Regions from separate parts of the Homo sapiens genome. Here regions 1 and 2 are each linked to region 3. Evidence: fine-mapped expression QTL. A gene starts in region 3. Each other region holds a variant in brackets. All regions are shown on one strand. Distances are from middle to middle.

Region 1 (2,761 bases), 80 kb after region 3:
TCCCATGGAGGCCGCAAACTGCTCTGCAGAGCCAGGGTCTCCAGGAATGGGGAGGGCAGCCACCCTCACTCCACTTGTGTTTGTGACCCAAAGGACTGCCCGGGTCTCCAGGAATGGGGAGGGCAGCCACCCTCACTCCACTTGTGTTTGTGACCCAAAGGACTGCCCAGGTCTCCAGGCCCGTAGAACCCCCAAACCCCTGACTGGGCCACACTGGGGACCTTGAGCAGCAGACTTAGATTCTTAGGTCTTGTCTCCGGGTACATATCAGTGCCCAGGCTTGGGAAGCTTGGGTCTCAGGGGGGTTGGCACTCAGGCCCTCTGCCTCAAGGAAGGGGCATGTCCAGATCTCTCCTGTCCAGCCTCAGCCCTGCTCCCTGCCCCTATCCTTCACGGGGTCCCTAGGACAGGGTTACAGAAGTCTCATGCTGTCAGGCGATGCTGCCACCCCAGTGCCGGGGTGGCTCCACCCAGCCCCTTTCCTGCTACCGTCCTCACTGACTCACCTGTCCAGCCTCCTACTGGGCTGGGGCGAGGGCTTGTTGCCCCAGAGCCCAGACGAGCACCAGAGGCATCTCTAAAGGCACATTGGGCCAGTCCTCAGCATCCTAGTTGGCCACCATCTGCTGCCACATGATGCTGGGAGGCCTGGGGAAGCTGGCTGCCGAGGGCCTGGCCCACCGCACCGAGAAGGCCACCGAGGGAGCCAGTGAGGACCCGGGGCTCCTTTCTACCTGGGCTGGGGGGATCTGGGGCAGACTGGGTCCATTGGAGGTGGATGTTAGTAGGCAGGCGAGGACCTGCGGGGAGGCCTTGGCCCCTCAGGAACCCTGGAACCCTGGCTTCCAGCCCCACCAGGTCAGCACGGAGTTGAGGGTTGGAGAGCTGGGGAGGTCTCCTGGGGGCAGGGCATGAGTCCTGGTGCTGGGTGAACACTGGCAGCTTGGACCCTTCCCTCTGGAAATCTGGGGAGCCTTTCTTATCAAAACAGCCTATTCTGAATAACCTATGCAGGAAAAGGAAGATGGATTTTTATTTTTACCACAACTTTAAAGCTTCAAAGATTTCTTAAGAAATCACCCAAATCTGATCTGTTCAAAGTCAAAAAGGACATTTTCAATTTCATCCAAGTCCCCTAAAGCATGTTTATTTTTATTTTTATTTTTATTTGAGACGGAGTCTTTCTGTGTCCCCCAAGCTGGAGTGTACTGGTGCGATCTCGGCTCACTCTAACCTCTGCCTCCTGGGTTCAAGTGATTCTTGTGTCTCAGCCTCCCAAGTGGCTGGGATTACAGGCGCCCACCACCATGCCCGGCTAATTTTTGTATTTTAAGCAGAGACAGGGTTTCGCCATGTTGGCCAGGCTGGTCTCAAACTCCTGACCTCAAGTGATCCGTTCCTCTTGGCCTCCCAAAGTGCTGGCATGACAGGCGTGAGCCACTGCGCCCGGTCCTGAAACAAAAAAATTGTTTTGTATTCAGAGGTCAGCAGCTGTGTGTGTGTGTGGG[G/C]GGGGGGGGGGCCAAGCAAGGCCCCACCCATGGATCATCGTGTGAAAAACAGTCTTGCCTGAGTTTGTGTCCTCACTCTAAATGGCAGCAGACGTGTATTTTCTTTTTGACTCTGCAGCTGGTGTGGACCACCTGCTTTAACCTTTCACTAGCCTCTGAGTTTTCTATGATTCCTGTTGGGAGAAAAGCTGAGTGTTGGGAGAGCAGTGGGCCTGCTCTGAGCCCTCTCCCTGGACTGGGGGAGCAGTGGGCCTGCTCTGAGCCCCTCACCCTGAGCTGCAGGGGCAGTGGGCCTGCTCTATGCCCTCACCCTGGACTTTGGGGCCAGTGGACCTGCTCTGAGCCTTCACCCTGAACTCGGGGGCAGTGGGCTTGCTCTGAGCCCTCACCCTGGACTGTGAGGCCAGTGGACCTGCTCTGAGCCCTCACCCTGGACTCGGGGGCAGCGGGCCTGCTCTAAGCCCTCACCTTGAACATTCAAGATTTAAGAAAGTTTGCCAGCAACAGATTCTGTTGAAAAGAACTACTTAAGAAGTCCTCCTGCAAGAAATGACATGAATCCAGAGGAAGAAGCAGTGTGAAAAAAGTAACAATTCTCTAAGTAATCAGCCAATGCTATTATTTAAGACTAAAGTATTGATTGCCATGGATGCTTAAAATAACAATTTAGAATTAGAATTCTGGATTATATCAACAGGAGAGTTGGGGAAAAGGAAAACAGCGGGAGGAAGTGAACACTCATCTTGTTTGGGAAGAGTCTATATGTACTGTTTACCTTTAGATTTTGTTAGGCAACATTATATATGGATATAAAAAATTAAAAGTATTAGAAAAATAACAATGAAATGTATAAATTTCAAACCAGTAAAGGAAATAAGATGGAACAAAGAAATTTCAATCAACCCAACAGAAAGCAAGAACAGGGACAAAAAGAGAAACAGCATAATCAATAGAAAACACAAAGATAGGCCGGGCATGGTGGCTCACGCCTATAATCCCAGCACTTTGGGAGGCTGAGGAGGGTGGATCACTTGAGGTCAGGAGTTCAAGACCAGCCTGGCCAACATGGTGAAACCCTGTCTCTACTAAAAGTACAAAAATTAGCCGGGCTTCTTGGTGGGCACCTGTAATCCCAGCTACTTTGGAGGCTGAGGCAGGAGAATCACTTGAACTTGGGAGTCGGAGGTTGCAGTGAGCTGAGATCATGCCATTGTACTCCAGCCTGGGTGACAGGGCAAGGCTGTCTCAAAAAA
Region 2 (2,761 bases), 33 kb before region 3:
ATCTGACAGACTCTTGTAGTAAATCATTACCTGTCATTATCATCACAATAAATCGAGGATGAGTATTTTTCTCTACTAGTACTAATAGTAAAATAAGGAGAAAGACCATTGGCTTAGTCTTTGGTAAACCACAGCACTAACAGCACCCCCTCATATAAAAGGACCAATGGACCTATTTAGTCTTTGATGAGCAAGTTTACCGCTTGTTTAGATAGGCTACACACTGAAACAATATATAAATTTGAAAAACAGATCTAACGTTCTGTTTTTATTTACTCATTATTTTTACCTTCAGATAAAAATACTACAATAGTCCTTCCAGGGTTAAATATGAAATGTTACATGTAGATAAGTGTTCAAAGCATACTCAAAAGGACTATAGAATTTATTTTTATGAGTAGGAACATAAGAAGAATAAATGCAAATTAACAGAAATTATAAATCAAGGCATCATGTTTAACTGTGTTAATAAAATACAAACAAAACAAAACAAAACCCAAAACACTTCAGAGCTAGCTGATAGAGATATAAATCATGGGCAAGATTAAAACACAGAATTATCTTCACTCCTCTAACAGTAGATTTTTGGATAATGAAATCAACACCACAGCAACATTTAAAAGGAATAACTTCTACTGCTATTTGACCCAAATGAAGGGTTAGAGTTATAGGACAAACTAAGTACTAGCTTAATTTCATTATTAGAATATAAGAGAAAGTCTACTGAATGAATTTTCACTTTTCAGTATCTATAACTTCTAACCTCTTTGTCCACCACATAAATAAATACAATCCAGATAGTGTTTTGCAAACACAAAATAACAACTCTAACTTCATCAGTGATCTAGTGCATAGAGGGCTCAACTAAGACTGATATTCCATGGTAACTCATCAAGTTTATAAAAGCAAAGTGCCTAGTTCCAATTGGAGTAATCTGTCCTTTGGGATATGCACTATTTAGAAATCATAAATCATAAATATGAGACCATCAACATATGTCCCAATTCAAAAGCACTCATTAACCAAACCAGGGAGAGAAATTCCACATATTCCATACAAATATAAAAGTCACAATTGATCTGTTTCAATATTTTAGTGATTCTGATTAGTTCCCTTTTGGCTCCTATAGTTCTCATGAATTAAATTGAGCTGTAAAGTAATGCAGACCTTATGATTCCAGAGACTGTGAGTCACCAAGGGAAGAGGTCCAAAAAGGTTAAATTTCCAC[T/G]GAACTCCAAATCAGAGGTTCGAAAGCTAGAGAGATAAAGACATTAGCTGTAGTCTTATGAAACATTTAAGGCTGCTTTCATTTGATTAGGAGTTTGGTACAGGCTCTTTGTGACAAATATAACAAAGATACTTGATATTTTTTAAGCTTTGAAGAAAATCCCAGAAAACAGATTATCTACGAAGAATGTTAAATCAAGCTAAGTAATAATGTGTTTATATACATTCAGAAACTTACTTCAGTGTTATCAAAAAACCAAACCAAAACAAAACAAAAAATGACCACCAAAAGGCTATCATGGAAGGAGGCCACATTCCTTCAGTTACTGAATAACGAAATCTGTTGTGATTTAAAACAGCAGTTATAACAATTTACCGCCTTAGGTCAGCTTTTCCCAAACTATTCTAAAAAGCACTAACCCTCCATGAAATGTTTATAGACAGTTTATAGGATAAAGGGGTGGGGATAGGAGGAATGAAGAGAGAAGAAAAATCCTCTAACAATATTTTTGTTCTAAAATTTTTAATACACAAAAATACTGAGTATATTTGATACAGTTAAAATTACCATGAGATAAGCTACTCATAATAGCATGCCACACCTCAGAAAGCCAGGATGTCCACAGTATACCACATATGCATGAATGCATTGATGCTCAAGTGATGCATAAACATACAACTATTGTGTTTTACGTTATTGAATCATAGCTGATTTGTGCTGTGATTTTTGCCTAATAATTTCAACATATATTTTAACTTTTTATTATATAATAAAGGCATAAATCAAAACTTAATTTCTTCCAGCCATTACTTTGTGTATGTGAAATAACTTTTTGTAATCTATTTTAATACAAGTTTATGTTCTTTTTTCTGAGTTTCTACTGATGCTCTGTCAATACATTATCATTTTTAAAGTTTTCCATAATCACAAGTTCAAAAACTGTTATTTTAGCTAAACACAGGTATAATAATACATGCCTCAATTTTGGAGACAATGAATTATGTTGTACCTGTTTTTAAAATTTTAAATGGCCTTTCTCTTTCTGCCAACTTGGAGCCTGTGGAGGCCTGCTGGGAACAGGAATACTAAAAGGAAGTATGTCTGGAAGGCTGTGGTCCAAGGCCATTTTTGCTGAGCATAAGTGGGGTCTCCAGAACCAAAGACAGCACACAGCTCTTTTTAAAATAGAAGGTGCTTATGCTCAAAATGAAACAGAATTCTGTTCGGGCATAAGATGTACTTATATATACAAAACAAAGAACAACAAAGTGACTCCTGGTGGCAAACCAAACAAAACCAGAGTAATCTAGGGAAAGGTAACTTGGTCCCAGGGAAATAGTGGCATGGTTCATGCCAAATTCTGAAGCAATCTTCCTGCTAAGGCCACTGGACACAGAATCTGTGTGACGCTGTACCCCTCAAGCATTTAAATTAATGAAAAGTAAATAAATAAAAGTGGATTTGTGCTCTTGGAAAAAAAAAAAGTAAAAAAAAATTTAAATGACAGAAACAGTTCTGAAGAAAAAGACAGAT
Region 3 (2,761 bases):
TCCTGTTTTTGTTTTGTTTTGTTTTGTTTTGTTTGAGGCGGAGTTTCGCTCTTGTTGCCCAGGCTGGAGTGCAATGGTGCCCTCTCGGCTCACTGCAACCTCCGCCTCCCGGATGCCAGCGATTCTCCTGCCTCACCTGCCTCAGCCTCCCGAGTAGCTGGGATTACAGTTGCCCGCCACCACGCTAGGCTAATTTTTTGTATTTTTAGCAGAGACGGGGTTTCACCATATTGGTAAGGCTGGTCTTGAGCTCCTGACCTCAGGTGATCCACCCGCCCCAGCCTCCCAAAGCTCAGGGATTACAGGCAAAACCACCGCGCCCGGCCTCGGTTGCACTCCTGAAACACTTCTTACTTCCTCTTCATCTAACTCCTACTCATTCTACAGTCCTCAGAATAAGCATCTCATCTTCTGGAGGACTATTTTCGATTCCATAAATTCAGTTAGGTAAAACAATCTGTCATTCATCTATCAGAACATCCATTACCTTTTATTATATTAACTTTTGCTATCGTCTATCTCTCCAGATAGATTTTAAGGTATGAAGGCAGAGGCCAAGTTTCTCTCGTTCAACACTGTATACCAGGGACGGGTACAATGCCAGCTTAAACTAATAGCTCTGCACCCTGGGACCCAGAATCTGAACAAGTGAAGTTGTTTTCTTCCTATCTAGAGGCTGAAGCGCCCTACTGTTTTACATACACAATTAGATCTCCTTGACGACTAAGGCAATTTCTCAATCAAACCTGAAGAAGCAAACAGGTGGTGGAGTCTCCTGCCATTTTCCGCCCTGTGAGTGACTGCTCATCAGAGTTTCTCACATCAATCGCACTGGGAAAAATGCGGCCCCATTCACCCACTAGTGGCTTTGGTAGCTCAGCAAGTGGACCTCAAGAGTGACGATGCACACAAGACCAGAAAGGAGTGACTGGAGCCCCTGGGTCCTCAGACTGAGACCAGAAGGTTCGGGCCGAGGCGAAGGACAAAGATTTTTATTTTCCCACGTACCAAGCGAGGTGGCGCTGCCTCTGTGCTGTCCCGCCCGCCCTGGGACGCAGGCTGGCGAGGACGGTGGGACCCTGAACTGCACGTGAGCGTCCTTGGGGTCGAGGACGCGCCTCTGCCTGCTGGGAAAGCTCCGGGCGTCCGAAGCAGCCGGCGAAGTTGTAGCGGCGCCCCAGCGGGGTCGCTTGGTGCAGGGTTCACAGCCGGGGCCCGCATTCATGCTGGGACCAGCAGCGCACTGTCCCCGGGCCGGCCCGGGCGGAGAGCCTCATTCACTAACCCTGAGAGAGATGGACTGCGCCTCCTTCTCAGCGCCTGCCTGCACCATTCCCTCTCTGCCGCTGCCTGCTTCTGCAATTGCTGATCCGCCGGCCTCCCAAGTCAGGCCGTAAACACTCGCCTGCCTTCCCTCTTCCACTGGCACCCCACCTGCCTCAATGCGCCGCTTTGATTCGGGATTCGTTCACTTTCCCACCACCGGAAAGCTGCCGTCAGGCGCTTCCGGCTTCCGGGGCGCACACTGCCGCAAAGCGGAAGTGTGGCGCTTAACGGGAACCGGCGCCCGGAATGTCAGCGTGTGAAGTAGGCGCTGGCAACGCGGGGTTACCCGCTGTTATTGAGGAGTAACGGCCCAGCGGACCACCCAGGCTTGAGGCAGCGGCGGGAACCACTCGGTTTGCTGCGATACCATGGAAGGAGGCGGGGGAAGCGGCGACAAAACCACAGGGGTATTGGCCGGCTTTTTCGGAGCCGGCGAAGCAGGTTACTCGCACGCGGATTTGGCTGGCGTCCCGCGTAAGTATGGGGCCTAGCTTGCGATTATTTCTGACTGGTTCTTGCGTTTACACTAAAGTTGCGCGTCCCATGTTTTATGTTGTTGGTTTTTTTTTCCTTGCTGGCGTTTACAAGCTTAAGTACCAGTGGTGGGGTTAGTGTATCTGCATGGCTGCTCTTTCAAGATAGAAAGGCCTAAAAAAGGGCCACGGATCTCCTGGGGAAGCTGTCCGTGATTGACCTGGACTCGCGAGATGATGCATGTTTTCTTAGGTTTATATCCAAGCCTCGTACGTTTTGTGTGTGGTGGGCCGTGTGATTGACCCTTAAGAGTAGAGCCCAGCTTTGGGAGTAAATGTATTCCAAATAGCAAGCCCGTAGTTAACTTTTTAGTACACAGTGACATATTCTGAGCCTCCAAGTAGCCGTAAGGGCAGAATATTCAGTAATATTGCATGTAAGTGAGAAATAAATATGACTTGGGACAGGCTAGGAAACCTTCTTTAGGAGCTAGGAAGTAAGCTGAACTTTAAAGGTGATATATAGACATGAAGAAAGAAGCCAGGTAAGAATTATAGGAAAGGAAATAGGCAACATCAAGGTATACAGAGGCATAAATATCTTGCCTTTGCCTCTCCTCGGTCTTGTGAATATGTTTTCCAGAACTTTGGTACTTTGTAACTGTGGTTGTTCAACTAGATAAATAGAACTTGGACCTAAAGATAGGCAGTTGGTCGTGGATAAAGCCTTTACGAAAGTACTTTCTTTTTAGAGAATCCTTGTAATATTTCTCTAGGTATTTTATACTAAGGAACAACAACAACGAAATATGTTCAGACTGACTCTAGTGCAAAAAAATATAAAAGACCTTTCATTTCCCTGGTGTCACCTTTGTCAAAAAACTGAATCTACAACACATGGTGTTTTGTTTCGTTTTTTTTTTGTTTGTTTTTAGAGTCAGGACCTCGTTCTGTCACCCATG

Direction of the effects. Alleles are on the strand shown, and positions count from the first base shown. SD is a standard deviation of normalised expression in the study named. Not every link is listed here.
With allele G in place of C in region 1, the expression in monocytes of the gene that starts at base 1,527 in region 3 is lower (large effect, 1.3 SD a copy in Schmiedel 2018).

Evidence for each region. PIP is the estimated chance that this variant, and not a neighbour inherited with it, causes the effect.
Region 1: its variant is fine-mapped to the expression of PARG in monocytes (Schmiedel 2018, PIP 0.95).
Region 2: its variant is fine-mapped to the expression of PARG in whole blood (INTERVAL, PIP above 0.99).

Annotation. Positions count from the first base shown.
Region 1 is chr10:50,020,016-50,022,776 of GRCh38, forward strand. It overlaps the pseudogene FAM21EP. Among named protein-coding and RNA genes, the nearest start is that of AGAP6, 33 kb to the left of the region's middle. The variant G/C (reference allele first, on the strand shown) is at 1,509.
Region 2 is chr10:49,907,288-49,910,048 of GRCh38, forward strand. The region is part of intron 7 of PARG (poly(ADP-ribose) glycohydrolase); the gene reads right to left. It also overlaps the pseudogene RPL35AP24. Among named protein-coding and RNA genes, the nearest start is that of PARG, 33 kb to the right of the region's middle. The variant T/G (reference allele first, on the strand shown) is at 1,229.
Region 3 is chr10:49,940,501-49,943,261 of GRCh38, forward strand. It overlaps PARG (poly(ADP-ribose) glycohydrolase), which reads right to left and starts at 1,527. Exons shown (of 18, transcript NM_003631.5): 1 at 1,009-1,527. The coding sequence starts at 1,225. It overlaps TIMM23B (translocase of inner mitochondrial membrane 23 homolog B), which reads left to right and starts at 1,553. Exons shown (of 7, transcript NM_001290117.2): 1 at 1,553-1,800. The coding sequence starts at 1,695. TIMM23B-AGAP6 (TIMM23B-AGAP6 readthrough (NMD candidate)) reads left to right here and starts at 1,553. Exons shown (of 17, transcript NR_158661.1): 1 at 1,553-1,800; 2 at 2,735-2,761. RefSeq lists an enhancer at 1,368-1,437.